4 linked regions of the Homo sapiens genome follow. The protein of the gene in region 3 purifies or fractionates together with the protein of the main gene of each other region. This does not show direct contact. Each region holds a gene or a part of one and is shown on either strand. Other genes may lie near its edges.

The links.
Region 1: the proteins of NPB (region 3) and ECE1 purify together in Homo sapiens (affinity purification with mass spectrometry; 2 studies listed by BioGRID and IntAct, with this or other methods). This does not show direct contact.
Region 2: the proteins of NPB (region 3) and MUC7 purify together in Homo sapiens (affinity purification with mass spectrometry; 2 studies listed by BioGRID and IntAct, with this or other methods). This does not show direct contact.
Region 4: the proteins of NPB (region 3) and PIGR purify together in Homo sapiens (affinity purification with mass spectrometry; 2 studies listed by BioGRID and IntAct, with this or other methods). This does not show direct contact.

Annotation. Positions count from the first base shown.
Region 1 is NC_000001.11:21,234,964-21,238,899, forward strand, and holds part of ECE1 (endothelin-converting enzyme 1), read right to left. Parts: intron 3,282-3,936; coding exon 3,171-3,281; intron 1,882-3,170; coding exon 1,783-1,881; intron 965-1,782; coding exon 887-964; intron 1-886. UniProt on the Homo sapiens protein: Converts big endothelin-1 to endothelin-1.
Region 2 is NC_000004.12:70,474,761-70,478,696, reverse strand, and holds part of MUC7 (mucin-7 precursor), read right to left. Parts: intron 1-3,936. UniProt on the Homo sapiens protein: May function in a protective capacity by promoting the clearance of bacteria in the oral cavity and aiding in mastication, speech, and swallowing. Binds P.aeruginosa pili.
Region 3 is NC_000017.11:81,900,361-81,903,853, reverse strand, and holds NPB (neuropeptide B preproprotein), read right to left. Parts: upstream 1,617-3,493; 5' UTR 1,577-1,616; coding exon 1,328-1,576; exon of another isoform or gene 1,235-1,327; coding exon 1,106-1,234; 3' UTR 949-1,105; downstream 1-948. UniProt on the Homo sapiens protein: May be involved in the regulation of feeding, neuroendocrine system, memory, learning and in the afferent pain pathway.
Region 4 is NC_000001.11:206,936,467-206,940,402, forward strand, and holds part of PIGR (polymeric immunoglobulin receptor precursor), read right to left. Parts: intron 2,998-3,936; coding exon 2,653-2,997; intron 1,286-2,652; coding exon 629-1,285; intron 1-628.

The sequences.
Region 1 (3,936 bases), on a different chromosome or scaffold from region 3:
AATGAGTCTTTATAGTCTTAGGTTCTAAATATAACCATGACGAGAGGTTATTAGATTTTTAAATGCCTGAATTCAGGCTGGGCATGGTGGCTCATGAATATGAGCCAGCCTGGGAGGCGGAGGTTGCAGTGAGCTGAGATAGCACCACTACACTCCAGTCTGGGCAACAGAATGAGACCCTGTCTCAAAAAAAATTTTTTCTTAAATACCTGAATTCAAGTATTTCAATCACAAGAAGATATAAAACTTCATAATTTGAGGCAGAAGCACAATCCACCTAACTGAGTGATTTGCCAAAAGTTCTAATAAGCAGGGATGTATCAACCACCTCCATTGCCCAAACCAAGCTTAAAAATGCACCTGGATTTAAGCTGCTTCTTTCCCATTAGCATTTCAAAGTCAAAATCAGAGGTCCGGGTTTCTGGGGAGGTGGAGGAGGGCCGCAGGGACAGGAGGTAACTGGAAGCACGACCAGGGAGGGAGGAGGTGGTGTGGGGGTTTTCCCACTTCATACCCCACCCCTGATGTCTGAGGGCCACCAATTCTCTCTGCACCTTCTGGGGTCTGTTTCCTCCATTATTTCCCACATATTAAATGGAGCTGACCACTTCCAGGGGGCACACAGCACGGGTTCTGTACTGACTGGTGGGCACTGCTGATGGATGGTGGCTATGGGGAGGCAGGGCCTCCAGCTGACCCAGGAGCCAAATTAAGAAGAAGAAGAGGCTTCCTCATGCCTGACCCATACCCAAGCCCCACACCACATCATCCCTGTGTGTTTTGACAACCATGCTGCCTCTAGCACCCCATCTGGACCCAGCCCTGCCTCGGCCCTTTTCTAAGGGGGCATTTAGGAACGCAAGGGGGCAGGGCAGCAGCTACTCACGTCATTAAACACTTTGTCCAGCTCCTTGGGATCCATGATGAAGTTGGGGTATCCTATCATGTTGTAGATGGCATCGGCCTGGACAGGACAGACAGAGGAAGTGAGTGCCCGGCAACATCGACCAGGCCAGCCTGAGCAACTTGGGTGCTGGGCTCATAGTCTGGGCCAAGGGGAACCAGAGCCAGGCCCTGCCTGCCTTGGGCTTTCATGTCTTTTTCTGGAAAGGTTTCCCCCTTGCAAAACTTCTACTTATCCCTTAGGTCTCTGTTTAAATGTCACTTTCCCAAGGGAAGTCTTCCCTGACTCCCATCCCACTGGAGGGTGCCAGAGCCTTCCCGACCCACGGGACGTGCTGCGTTTTCCTGCACCTTTTCCCCGTACACTCAGCGAGGTTTGTCTTCTACAGACATCCAAGCAATCATGTGCTTGAGGCCTACCCCGAATCCTGCTAGGCCTAGACCGCTCACCCGCTGAAGGCGAGACAGCATCCAGGCTGTGCTGCCGGACAGAACTGGCCTCACCGGGCGCGGTGGCTTATGCCTATAATGCCAGCGCTTTGGCAGGCCAAGGCGGGTCGATCACCTGAGGTCGGGAGTTTGAGACCAACCTGACCCACATGGAGAAACCCCATCTCTACTAAAAATACAAAATTAACCGAGCGTGGTGGCGCACGCCTGTAATCCCAGCTGCTCGGGAGGCTGAGGTGGGAGAATCGCTTGAACCCGGGAGGCGGAGGTTGCGGTGAGCCAAGATCGCACCATAGCACTCCAGCCTGGGTAACAAGAACGAAACTCTGCCTCAAAAAACAAACAAAAAAACCGGCCTCTCCTTCCCCCACCCTCCTCTATCTGTGCTGGACGCCGCAGCACCCCCTCCAAGTGCCTGGCCAGCCTCACCTTTTCCTTGGCTGATTTTCGGGTTTCCTCATCCATCCACTTCAGGGTGCTCAGGCTTTCCTCAAATGCCTTCTTAATCTCCAGGATGATCTCGGTGGCCTGAGGAGATACACATCACAGCAGTAAGGTCTGCGCACTGGTCTCAGGTAAATGCAACAGGCACCCCGTGCAGAACAATGATGGCCAGAGATTAAACTCAATTTTCCAAGCGTCAGGCTGGGTGAGAAGGGGAGCCACAGCTGTGCTTCCAAACCACGCTCCTAACGTGAACACCCTGCAAGACAGGACTGGCCTTCCACACACAGGGCTCCATGCTCCAATAAGCTTAGGATGAGCTTCGGGAAAGTTGGAAAAGTCTCTGCTGTGGTACTTTTCAGAGCCTTTAATATGGTAATAATAGGCACCGTGATTCTTCCAGAGAGGGGAGAAGACACAGCCTCTCCCAGCCTTATTGCCTTATTGGACCACAGCATTCCTTTTTGATGGAGCGGGCTTTAAGATCTAGAGTACTCATGTTCCGAGGAGCAGCTTCGGAAATACCATGCTCAGGCTGGATATAGACAGGTGTTCTTGAGGGAGACAATGTCATGAGCAGACAAGCTCGAAGATGGAAAGTTGAAGGTTCTAGAGAAGGGGAAGGCAGAGCTGTGCGGCAACAAGAGCAGAGGGGCCAGCAGACCCCAACTCAGACCCTGCCCAGCTGCTCACAGGCCAGTCACTGTAATGGATTTGAATTGCGGTTGGCTCACCTCCGGCTGCAGATGACAGCTACATAATGAATACTATTTGTCATCAAGATTGTAACAATAAAATGACCACTCCCATTAGCTGAACCCTTATTGTATGCCGGTGCCCAGTGTGTGGCATCTCATTTAATCTCTCTCTGTGGGAGGAATGCCCCCGTCTCCACATTGCAGATGATGTAAGAACTGTCCCAGGCCACCCGACCAGCGGTGAGGCCAGGATCTGAGCTTAGGCCGGGCTGTCTCCAAGGCGCTCTGCCATGGCACTCCTCTGCCTGTCTAGAACAAACCTGTCACCCACAAAATAAGAAAAATGTCACCCTCTGGGCCAGAGCTGTTCTGCCAACATTCTCTCTGGGTCGTTCACAGCCCTTGGAGGTGGGGATGGCTGTCACAGCCTTGCAGGCTGCTGGGAGGATCACATGAGCTCGTGCAGATAAGGGCCTGGCACTGAAGAGCTGCCCTCGTGAGACTCCCATTACCCAGGGCTCGAGGAAGTGAAGCCTCTGCATTGAGGCTGTGGCCCTAAGGTCCCCTGCCCAGGAGCAGGAAAGGCCCAGGGTGGGCTGGAGTGTGAACTGGCAGGTCTGTGCAGGCCACAACAAGTGTGACCTCACAGCCTGTGTCCACGGGGAAGGCACTTACTATGCTCTTGCTGTCCTCGGCGAAGGTTGCTTTGACAAACATGGGGCCCAACGCAAAGCCCAGGTTGTTTTCTGTGTCACTCACGCAAAACTTCCAGCGAGGAAGACAGGTCTGGAAAACACAAGTCAGGGGGCTCGCTGGGCCCCAGCCCTTTGTTTCCCAACCCCTTTCTTGCTGGGAGGTAGCACCATGTGGGGCCCATGCTTTGTTCTGGAAGTTCAGGGAGAGCTTTCCGACCCAGTAAAGTTATTTTAGTCACCGGACCAAGAGGCCACTGATACCCTCACTCCCACCCCCTGCCATTTCCTGAATGCCAGGCTCTGTGCTGGGACTTCACAAATAGTGTCCCGTTGAGCCATTCAATGACCCTCGGGGCTTACAAGCCGTTTGACTGATGGGGAAACACACTCGGCACGGAGCAGCTGCTGGCCCAGGGTGCCCCACGAGTGACAAGTGTTGTTGGAATGAGAACTGAGACGTGCCTGACTCCACATCCTATGCTCCTACCTACCCCCATCTCGTCCTGCCTCCTGGGAAGAGCAGGAGTCCTGGAGGCAAAGAGCGGTGGAGAGTGACTGGTCTACCCTGAGTCACAGAAAAAACTGCCCCAGGGCCAGGGCTCCAATGCCATTGAAGATCTCCTCAAATGAGAACACCACAGCAACACCGCAGGACTTTTTTCTTTTTTTCTTTTTTTTTGGCAGGGTCTCGCTCTGTCACCTAGGCTGGAGTGCAGTGGTGCGATCACACAGCTCACTGCAGCCTC
Region 2 (3,936 bases), on a different chromosome or scaffold from region 3:
CTCACATTCCATGATCTCGGTCTTTCCCTTTCCAGATGGTCTCTGAGGATGTTGCAAAGAATGTCCAGATCTTATAGGAACATGTATGAAACATGCTGCAACAGACCAGCAGTGGAGGTTTGGCTCTGTCCTGTGTCTGCCACTGAATAGCTGAGTGACTTTGGTCAAGTCACTTAATGTGCCTGGATGTCGGCTTATTCATTTATAAAATGATTTGGATTAAATTAAATTCCAGATCCAAAGTCTAATTTTATTTGCTTTGAAATAGTTATGTGGTTCATTCCCTTAATCACATGAGCCTCACGAAGGCCCCTCTTTGATTCACCTCTGTAAGTCCAATACCTAAAACTATGCCTGGCATATGGCAGGTACTCATTAGCTATTAATTGAATGAGTAAATGCATGGAAATGATAACAATAACTAATTTGTTATTGAATAAAGTATTAACATTTAAAAGTGTTTATTCATATGTAAAATAGTTTCAGCTATTTTACTTTAGGTGACCAAAATAATACCTACCACATTTTTATATGAAGGCAAATTGATTAAAATCCTATTAATTTTAATGTTAGCTTGGCCTGGAACATGTATCAAATGACCAGTTTGTTTGATTTACTTAATATATTGATTAGTTATTATGATTGGCAGTTACAGGTGGTTATAACAGAAATTGTAGACTAGAGTTGGATTTAGAGAAGTCTGAGAGAGGAAGGAGTTGAAAATGCATGCCTCTAAAGTTTGAGTTTAGGTGACTGAAGTATGGAGGTCCTTATAATAAATATAGATATGCCAGGGAGGGTGTATTAAAGATAGCAACCCTGCCTGCCTGTTCACATTCATTATTTATTTTTATTAAAAAAGTCTTCATGTAACACTTTATGTTAGGCCCTATTCTGAGTGGTTTACAAATACAAATTTATTTAATTTCTTAGTAATATCATAAGGTGGGTACGGTTATTATCTTCATTATATGGATGGGAAAACTGAGTCTCAGACTAAGTAACTTTTAGGAGAATGTTTCTCCATTTGCAAACTGTACTTTTGAGAGCAGAGAAGAGGGAGAAGACATGAGGAACAAGGATAGAGTAGGCTGGAGTCAAGGGAAGGAGAAGGAGAGACACATGGCACTTGCAGCAAGAAAGGAGGGTATGAGAAAGCAGAAGACTCCTAAAATAACTAGAGGAATGCCAAATTCTCTGAGGAAGGAAGAGGAGGAGAAAATTAGTCAGAAAGGGAGAGAATTAGAAGACAGAAAGGCCAAGATTACATTTTTTACTTTTGTATTTTGAGACAGAGTCTCACTCTGTCACCCAGTTGGAGTGCAGTGGCATGATCTCAGCTCACTGCAACCTACGTCTCCTGGGTTCAAGGGATTCTCCTGCCTCAGCCTCCCTAGAAGCTGGAATTACAGGTGTGTACTGCATGCCTGGCTAATTTTTGTATTCTTAGTAGAGATGGGGGTTTCACCATGTTGGCCAGGCTGGTCTTGAACTCCTGACCTCAGGTGATCTTCCCGCCGCGGCCTCTGAAAGTGCTGGAATTACAGGTGTGAGCCACGGCACCCGGCCCAAGATTACATTTAATTGAAATTAGAAAGCACAATTCATTTCTTCATTTGCTACCAGCTTATTTTTATGACCATTTGAAAATCTGTGATCCTTTTTTAAAGAGAATGAAAGCATTATGCTAAATAATGCTATAGTTGACAGAGCTCTTCATCTGACTCCAGAATACATCCCTTCAAGTCTTTCTTTGGGACATCTGGAAGAGAGAAGCCAGACTATCTGCTCCCTGAAATCACTCCACAAAAGCAGGTTGTTGCTAGAGCTCCAGGACTGACCTTTTCTGGCTGTGGGTTAATGCTAATCTCCGGTACATTCCTGTATTTTCTTTTCTTTTTATTTTTTTTGAGACGGAGTCTCGCTCTGTCACCCAGGCTGAAGTGCAGTGGCACGATCTTGGCTCACTGCAACCTCTGCCTCCCAAGTTCAAGTGATTCTCCTCCATCAGCCTCCCAAGTAGCTGCAATTACAGGTGTGGGCCACCACGCCCAGCTAATTTTTGTATTTTTAGTAGAGACGATGTTTCACCATGTTGGCCAGGCTGGTCTCGAACTCCTGACCTCACATTCCTGTATTTTCTAAGGATCAGGTCAAGGTATTTCTGTGCTACCTTCTCATATTCAAGTTCTTTGGAAACTCTTTCTCTCACCAGGCACTTTTTTGAGATTTGGGCAGCTTGAAGAGTTTTATTTATTCTAAGCACTTGGAAGAAAGGATTCTTTAGGTGTCTGGATTTGAGGGAGTTATGATGAAAGGCCACTTCAAAAGAACAACCCAGATTCATCATTTCACAATAACATGACTTGTGTTGATTGGAAAATTATTTCTTTCAATATAGAGGTGTTGGTAGCCAGGGATTCCTTATTAAAACTTTACTTATTAAAAAGTTAACATCACTGTGCATATTCAGAACTTAAAGCCTTATCAACTAGTATGTAAATTGAGATTACAATAATCTTGTCATAATTTTTATATCTACACTATAGTTTATAATTTATAAATTCTCATTTACCCTTCAGCAGCCCTGTGAAGCATATAGTGTTGTTATTATTTTACACATAGGGAAATTGGGGCCCTATAAATAGATTCTAAATTGCTCAAGATTCATCTGGATGGTAAACATTAGAGATGAGTTTAAGCCCACATCTTCTGAGCCCAGCTTGAACACTCTTCTAGTCACAGAAATCAGCATTAGGGTCCGGGAAAAAGCCTGATTGTTTTCTGGGGGATATTATAAGGTAAGTGAGAAATATGAGAATATCCAAGAGTAAATTCCGTCCACTTCATCAGTTCTTCTGCCCTCTCTCTCTCTACTCTACTGGCGTAATATTCTGAGGCTATCCATCCTCATTCAATAAAAAAGTACATTCCACTTCTTGATTCTTATTTGAAATTTTGTCAAAATAAAATTTAATAAATACTTGCAGGTACATAGCATGAGAGAAAAATATGGTTATTATTACAGCATGTATCACCTTGTAATCACATTATATCATTATTAATTTTAATCTTCCTTTGCCAGTACACCCTAAATTTCTTAAAGATAGAAGGTCCACTTTGTAGTCTTCTCTTGGTTTTGGAAGCCATCCTTTCCTGTCCCCTCTTGTGGGTCCTCCATTTTCTCTATCCATATCTAAACTTCCTACATTTTCTCCCTAGGTGAAAATGTTGTAAGGTTTCATGGCTTCAAGTATGTTTTAAATATAGACTTTACCCCTAGATTTCTTTCTGAACTCCAGACAACATATATCCACTGTTTTCTTGATATCTTGATGTGGAAGTCTAATAGCCATTTCAAATGTAACATGCCCCAAACTAGAACGTTTTTGTTCATTTCTTTCTTTTTTTTTCTTTTGAGACAAAATCTTGCTCTGTCACCCAGGCTGTAGTGCAGTGATGCAATCTCGGCTCACTGCAAACTCTGCCTCCCAGGTTCGAGCAATTCTCCTGTCTCAGCCTCCTGAGTAGCTGGGATTACAGGTGCCCACCACCACACCCAGCTAATTTTTGTATTTTTAATAGAGACGGGGTTTCACCATGTTGGCCAGGCTGGTCTTGAACTCCTGACCTCGGGTGATCCACCTGCCTTGGCCTCCGAAAGTGCTGGGACTACAGGCATGAGCCACCGCGCCCGGCCTGTTCATTTCTTTCTTTTACCACATATACAATCCAGCAGAAGATATAGTAGACTCAATCACTAAAATATATCCTAAACCCACTCTTATCTTTTAATTGCTGAAATTTAGTGCAAGTCACCATCATCTTTTATCTGGACCACTGCCATAGCTTCCTGACTAGTCTCCTTATCTCAGCTTTTGTTACCTGCTACCTATCTTCTCCTGAGAATCCTGTCATGTAAATCCCCTGGGAGTG
Region 3 (3,493 bases):
TCAGTACTTTTTTCAGCCCCACATTCCTCTCCAGAATGGCCTCTGCCCTACAGCACCTGGCCCATGTGGCACCCCATGGGCCTGTCCTCTGCTGTTGTGAGGTCGACCTCACGACCCAGCACAGGAGCTGGAGGCGAGGTGCACGCGAGGCTCTCCACAGCCCAGGAAGGCAGCCTGTCACCCTGCTCTCCGAGCCAGGGGCCAAGGTGTGGGGGGCACAGGCCATCCTCATCCTGCCAGGCCCCCGCTTTCAGGAGTGGGGTGGTGCCAATGCTCCCACTCAGAACCCTGGACTGCGGGGTCCCCTGAGCAGAGGGACCAGCCAGTTCCCCATAGACAGATTGGTGCTGGACAGGGGCTGCCTGGGCCCCAGGCTTGGGGAGGGTAGAAAGGCCCTGCAGTGCTGCTGCCTGGGCCCGGAGGTGGGCCTGGCCCCGTAGCAGCATTGGAGGCCAGAGCCCAAGCCAGTTCCGGAGTCACACCCAACGGCGGAGGGAGAACCTACCCATCTCCCACCTTCAGCTCTGGGGAGGCATGCTCTGGGCCTCTGGAGCCAGGGCTCAGGCCCCCAACTCTCCTCCTTGCCCCTGCACCCTCGGACTTGGCCTGGCCAGAAGGGATGGGGGCAAGAGGAAGGCAGCCAGGGGCTCCAGCCCATGCCCTCACAGATTTGGCTCTCGAGTTGGGGAGCGAAGGGCTGGGGGAGGACACTGGGAACCGGGCCAGCCGTGGCCCTGCACTTCCCCCAGGGAGCACCAAGGCTAGGCGCGGCTTCACCGCGGGGCTGGGTCGTGGCCAGCTTCGCCCCTGGGTCTGAAGACCTCTGGGCGGCCCAGGCCAACCTTGCCCTGCCGCCGCACACTCGGCTGCCTTCTCATACCCAGGCTTGGGGATTTCCAGGTCCCGTTCCCCTCGTGGCCTGGCTGCCAGTCCTCCAGCACCCCTCACTCCGAGGCCGCCTCATTTATTTATTCGTTTGCCATTAACTGCGGGGTGAGCGGAGTAGGGGAGACCTGGGGCGCCATCCCGCGCCGGAGGGGCCTGGGGTCACCGAGTGGGACGGTGGGGGCGGGGGGCCCCCAGCGGTGCCAGGAGAGGTCCGGGCTCAGGCGGCGAGGCAGTCGGCTGCGCGCAGGGACAGGAAGACGTTCGCCTTGCACTGGTAGGTCCCGCGGCCGTCGGGGAGCCGCTCGCACCTCTGCAGGTTTGGGGCGACGTCCTGGACGCACACAGCCTGGGGGGCAGGCAAGCAAAGGCTGAGGGGCCGCCGCACCCCCACCCACGTCCTGCCGCCGCCCCCCATCAGTCCCCGGCACGCCGGACTCACGAGGCTCCGCAGCCTGGGGTGCAGTTGCAGCTCCGGGGAGGCGCCGGCCCCGCCCGGGGGTTCCGCCCCTCTGTAGGGCTGGGAGCGCCGCGCGTACGGGGACCTGCGGAGGCCGGACAGCAGCCCCGCGGCGCGGCCCACCGAGTAGGAGCTGTGCCCCGCCGCTGGCTTGTACCACGCGAGGCCAGGCGGCGCCAGCAGCAGGCACAGCGCCAGGGCGGCGGCCGCCAGTGTCGCGGACCGGGCCATGGGGACGCCGGCTGACTGGTGGGCGGCGGCGTCCGGGCTCGGAGCAGCCACCGCCTGGGCCGCCTTATATCTGCGGCGAGGGCGGGCCGAGGCTGCGGAGGGCCGGGAGGGGCGGCGGGCGGGCTGGGGTGCAGCGGGCGCGCGCGGAGGAGCCGTCGCACCTCCGCATCCCAAAGGAACCAGCCGCGCGGGCGAGCGCTGGAGGCGCGCAAGGATCTGGCGCTTGGTGGGAGCCCAACGCCCCCTCAAGCTCCCCACCCATGCCGCTCGCGCCCTTCAGGCCCGGCTTGCGTGGGCCGCAGTGGCAGCAGGGGAGGGCCCACGGGCGCCCAGCCCTAGGAGTCGTCCCCCAGGCAATCCCCAGTACTCCTGATGCTGGAGAGCCAGCCACACTGCACAGTGCCCCGGGGGCGGTTTCTACCACCCTAAGGGGTATTCTTGGCTCCAGGCATCAGAGTCCATGTGGCTTGTGGGGCCCTCATTTCTTTCATGCCCACTGGGGAAGGTTCCACCAGCAGGGCTGTTACTGGCGGGGTCCTCTGGGAGGGGGGCAAGAAGGCCAGCCACACCAAGGCACTGGAGCTCCACGACTCCTGGCCTTCGATTGGAGGCCCCTCTCTGCCAGCTCTGCCCCTTGGGGGGCACCAGGCAGGACTGCCAGCCGCTCTCCTGGCAGGTGACATCAGCCTTCAAGCTCACTGTGCCCTCACCATTTCATGCTCCCCCAAGGTCCTGGTCATGTCTTCTCTTGGGTATCTTCCCAGGACAGGCACTGGCACTGGAGCCCTGGCACTTGTTTCTGGGTTCCATGCTTCCCAGGTGTGATGGTGAATGCTGAGTGTCAGCTTGACTGGATTGAAGGATGCAAAGTATTGTCACTGGGTGTGTCTGTGAGGGTGTTGCCAGAGGAGATTCCCATTTGAGTCAGTGGGCTGGGAGAGGCAGACCCACCCTCAATCCAGGTGGGCACCACCTAATCGGCTGCCAGCACAGCCAGGATACAAGCAGGCAGAGGAACGTGGAAAGACTAGACTGGCTGAATCTGGCCTCCATCTTTCTCCCATGCTGGATGCTTCCCGCCCTCGCACGTCGGCCTCCAGGTTCTTCAGCTTTTGGACTCTCGGACCTACACCAGTGGCTTGCCAGGGGCTCTGCAGCCTTTGGCCACAGGATGAAGGCTGCACTATCGGCTTCTCTACTTTTGTTTTGGGACTCAGACTGGCTTCCTTGCTCCTCACCTTGCACATGGCTTATTGTGGGACTTCACCTTGTGATCACGTGAGTCAATACTCCCAATAAACTCTTCATATATACTCTTCATATAGAGTCCTGTCTCTCTAGAGAACCCTGACACAGATTTCAGGTGAGGCCTGGTCTACTCCTCAGGTTGCTGTGAGGAAGGGTCAAGAGACACTGGGCACGGGTCACTGGCCCCATGAATGCCAAGGGCTCCCTAGGTTACTGGAGACACAGCCTGTGCTCTGTCCAGAAGCAGCCTGAGATGCCGGGGCTGCCACTCCCCCAGCGGCCCCTTCCCACCACGATTGTGGGGAGCAGAGGCACACAAAGGAGCCTCCCAGGGCCACCTTTCCCTAGGAAGGGAAGCCTCAGACGTGTGGACACACTTCCCAGTGTCAGGACACTGATCCCTACACTGTGGGAGGCCCAGCCCCGCTGCAGACAGTCCCAGTGAGAACAATGGACGCCCACTCAGAGATGGTGGCCTTCAGTCTGGAGGCGCCACAAGCAGTGGCCGCCAGCTTTGCACAGCCAGGGTCCCTCAGAGCCAGCCTGAGGGAGGGTCCCAGGGCCGCCGCCGGCAATCCAGCAGGCAAGAGCATGCCTGAAGAGCATGCCCCAGGCTCTACCGTCTGATCCTGCTCCTTCTCCTCCCAGTCATGACTCAGGGTTTGACGA
Region 4 (3,936 bases), on a different chromosome or scaffold from region 3:
TTGGAACTGCAAGTACTGGTTTGCTGCTTCTCACGAGGGCAACTCTATGCAGGGTGCTCTGGGATGAGAAGGAGCTGGGATTTAATTCTTTCACCATGCTGATGGCTCACTGGAGTAGGGCTGAGTGGGCCAGATGGTGCTGAAATTCACAAATAACCCTACGAAATGTGACAGTGAAACATTTAGAGGCTGGGGCACTCCTGGGAACGCATTGAGACCAAGATAAGCCAATCCTTTTTCCATCTGAATGTGAGGGATGAGGCACCCATCTTGTTCAGGGGCCAGGGGAGGGGACAGAGGACCCCTGCAGAGCCTGCCACAGCCCTGAAACACAGTCTATAAGTCCTGCCTCAATCAAGAGCTTTACTCACCTCTTGCTTGTTAAGCAGGGACAGCCATCAAAATGACTTTGATAACAGAAGAGTAATTAGGAGCTGCCATCAGGCAGAGGTTGCTTTTTCTTGCTGTCCTGTGCAGCAGCCCACGCAGCCTCCAGTTCGGGGCTGGTCATTGAGTGGATGCTGTTGGCTGATTGATGACTATTGATGAATACACTCAGAGGGAGCTGAGCTTGGCTCTCACCTGCGAGACTGCCCCACCTACTCCCCCTCCCTCTCTAGGGTCTTACCCTCATTGACGAAGAGTTGCCAGGCCTGGATAGGCGAGCCTTCCTGCAGCTGACCATCCGAATGGGCTCCACACAGGTAGCGCCCTGCATCCTCCTTCCTCAGGCCTGTGATCACCACACTGAATGAGCCATCCTTGTCCTGGGGGTTGAGCAGGATCCTGCCCTCAAAGGCTGGGGCCCTCTTCCCCAGGGTGTTGACGACCACGTCACAGTTTTCCCCACTGCTCTGTCGGCACAGAAATTTGGCCACGTTTGCCACCTCAGGGCCCAGGGCACAGTGGAAGGTCACTGAGCCCCTCAGGTCTTCATAAACCAGCTCGGGCTCGGGCTTTAGCACTTGGAGGTCAGCATTCTTCTTATTACTATTGGAATCATCCCCAGCCTGGCAGAGATACTGCCCAGCATCGCTGAGCCTGAGTTGGTTGATGACAACGCTGAACAGTAACTGGCCAGTACCCTGAATATCAAGGCGTATTCTTCCTGTATAGTTGGGATTTACATAACCACTGGAGTCGATGACCAGCACAGGGTACAGGCCTATCTGCTTGTACAAGGACTTCCTCTTTTGAGCATTCTCAGTCTTGAAAGGGCAGTTGATGGTCACCGTTCTGCCCAGGTCCACTGTGTAGACTTTAGTGTCATTTAGGAGCCCAGGACCTGCAGGATGAGGGGTGCAAGGTAGGGGGCAGGCAAGTTACGATTCTACTTTCTTGCAACATAGGACTATTTGCTATTCCTAGTTAGGGTGTGGGTGGACTTATAACCTGGAATGCCCTCCTTCCCAGAGGAATGCTGTCGGAAGGCCCAGCTTGACAGCGGTCTTCTCCATGAAACCTTTCCCAAGCTAACACTAATCTCTCCCTGCCCTGTGCTTTCTTGATACATCTGCATCACTTATTACATCCAATCTGGTGTATGGGTAATTATGTTCTCCATGGACTGGAAGTTCCTTGAAGGCTGGAACATGTTTTTCTCATGTTTGACCCCTCTGCTGTGACAAGCACAATGCCTCTGGGTAGTAGGTGGCCAAATTAATGTGTGCTGAAATGAACAGAATGAATGTAAATGCAGGGTGATGGATTTCAACGCATACAATAGAAGTTTCTAAAAATTACAAGAGTCTAAATGTGAAATGGGCTGTCTCAGGGAGCAGTGAGTTTCTGCTAAAGTGCTTAATCAGAGGCTGCATACCCGTCATCAGCATGTTCTTCTAAGTGTCCGGTTAGGGTGAACTCTAAGCCCTCTTCACCTCTAAAGATTCTGTGGTTTTGAATCTTGATCCCCACCTAAATGACCTCCTCATTTAGTCCACAGACAATAGTATGCATATTCCAAAGGAGCAAGACATGTCTTTGGGAGTCCCCCTGAATTTCTTTTCTCCGTAGACCTCTCTTTTGAGTTGCCCTTGACTATCTAAAACAGCCTCATTGTTAAACCCTTGTCAGAAAGAGCTTTTCTTTTTTTCTCTTTCTCCAACTAGAATAGGCTTGTTAGCAACCCATCCTTTCAGGATCTTGGTCTTTGGTCAAGATCTAATAATCTAATTTACCCTGATAATACCAAAAGACTAAGGGTTCCCAGGTTAAAAAAAAAATATGCATTTTACAAGAAGCCTTTTGGCGGCCCAAACCTTGATGGAAAGGTGCATTAATGATAGGAATTTAAGGATCCCTGTAAATCTCTCCCTACCTTTTCTATCTCCTTAGCCTGATGTCAGATTTCCCTTTCTACCTGTAGCAAACACCAGAAAACTTGTCCTTCTGATACCCTTCTAAGCTGGGGTCTCCAGAAAGCCTAAAATGTTATAGGCCACCAAGTCCTAGAAGGGTTCACTCATCACCCCCAAGTAGGCCCTATCTGTCTCCTTCTCCTGTTAAAGAAGTCTTTGCCTGGGGAAAGGGGTGCCTTCTGACCCCCAACCCGGCTACACATCCTTGTCAGGAAGTTCCTCCTCAAGCCCTCCATGCACCTTAGAGAATTCCCTCTAACTTTCCCCCAGAAGCCCAAGGAGCTTGGATCCTTACCCTGGCTGACCTCCAGGCTGACATCAAAGGACAGGCCTCGGCTATTGATGCCCAGGCCACACTTGTAGCGCCCGGAGTCATCCTGGCTCAGCTGGGCAATGTTCACCACAAATGTGCCGTTCTCCGGGAAGTTGGTGAGGTTAGCCCTGCCTGCATATTTGCTGGAGACGTAGCCCTCCGAGGAGATGAGGGTTATGCAGCCACCTCTAGCTCCCTGCCGGCACCAGTACTTCCGGGTGTGCCGGTTGACAGAGGTGGGTGGGTAGTAGCACGTGATGGACACTGAGTTACCTTCCACACTATTCACCTCCTCGGGACCAAATATGGGACTCTTCGTGGAGATGGCTGTGGGAACAGAAGAGAGAGGCTTTCTGAGGCCCTTGGGAGGTAAAGCCTGTTCCAGATAACCCACTATGAGTAGATGTGGTTTTCTACCTGACACGTAGGCCCTGTGTTGATAATTTATCATATATCACAGCTGGAAAATTGCTGAGATTAAATAAAGTGACTGTTTTAATCATGATTAAATTGGAATTGTTATTCATTAATGATAACCATTTCAAGGACAAGGGAATGACAAATTTATGATAACCCTTGTTTTTTATTTTATATATTTTTATTGTTTTGAGACAAAGTCTCTCTCTGTCGCCCAGGCTGGTGTGCAGTGGCACGATCTCGGCTCACTGCAACCTCCGCTTCCCAGGTTCAAGCGATTCTCATGCCTCAGCCTCCCAAGTAGTTGGGACTACAGGTGCATGCTAGCTAATTTTGGTTTCTATTTAGTAGAGACAAGGTTTCTCCATGTTGGCCAGGCTGGTCTTGAGCTACTGACCTCAAGCAATCCACCCTCCTTGGCCTCCCAAAGTGCTGGCATTACAGCTGTGAGCCAGCATCCAGCCATCCATTGTTTTTTCAAACAATAACACCACTTTCGTAAGGTGTTACATGTTTGCACTTGCCATGTGTTATTTCCTTATATTTCTAAAAGCACTTTGTAGATGATTTTCTTTTCTTTTTTTTCCCCCAGATAAAAATATTGAGAGCCAGAAAGGATAAGTGACTTCCCTCAGATTTCACAGCGGGTCATAGAGATGCTTGGTTGAAGTTAAGGTCTTTGTTATTCTCAAAGAAGATCTTTCACAGACCCCTGGCCTTGAGATTAGGAAGTGCCATTCCTGTCCCTGACTTCCAATGCTCACAGATGTGGCCTTTCAGTGTCTTCTCTGTATGACTCTTCCTCAAGGAAGTGCCAACTTTGAGAGGGACATCCCTGGGGATGAGTCT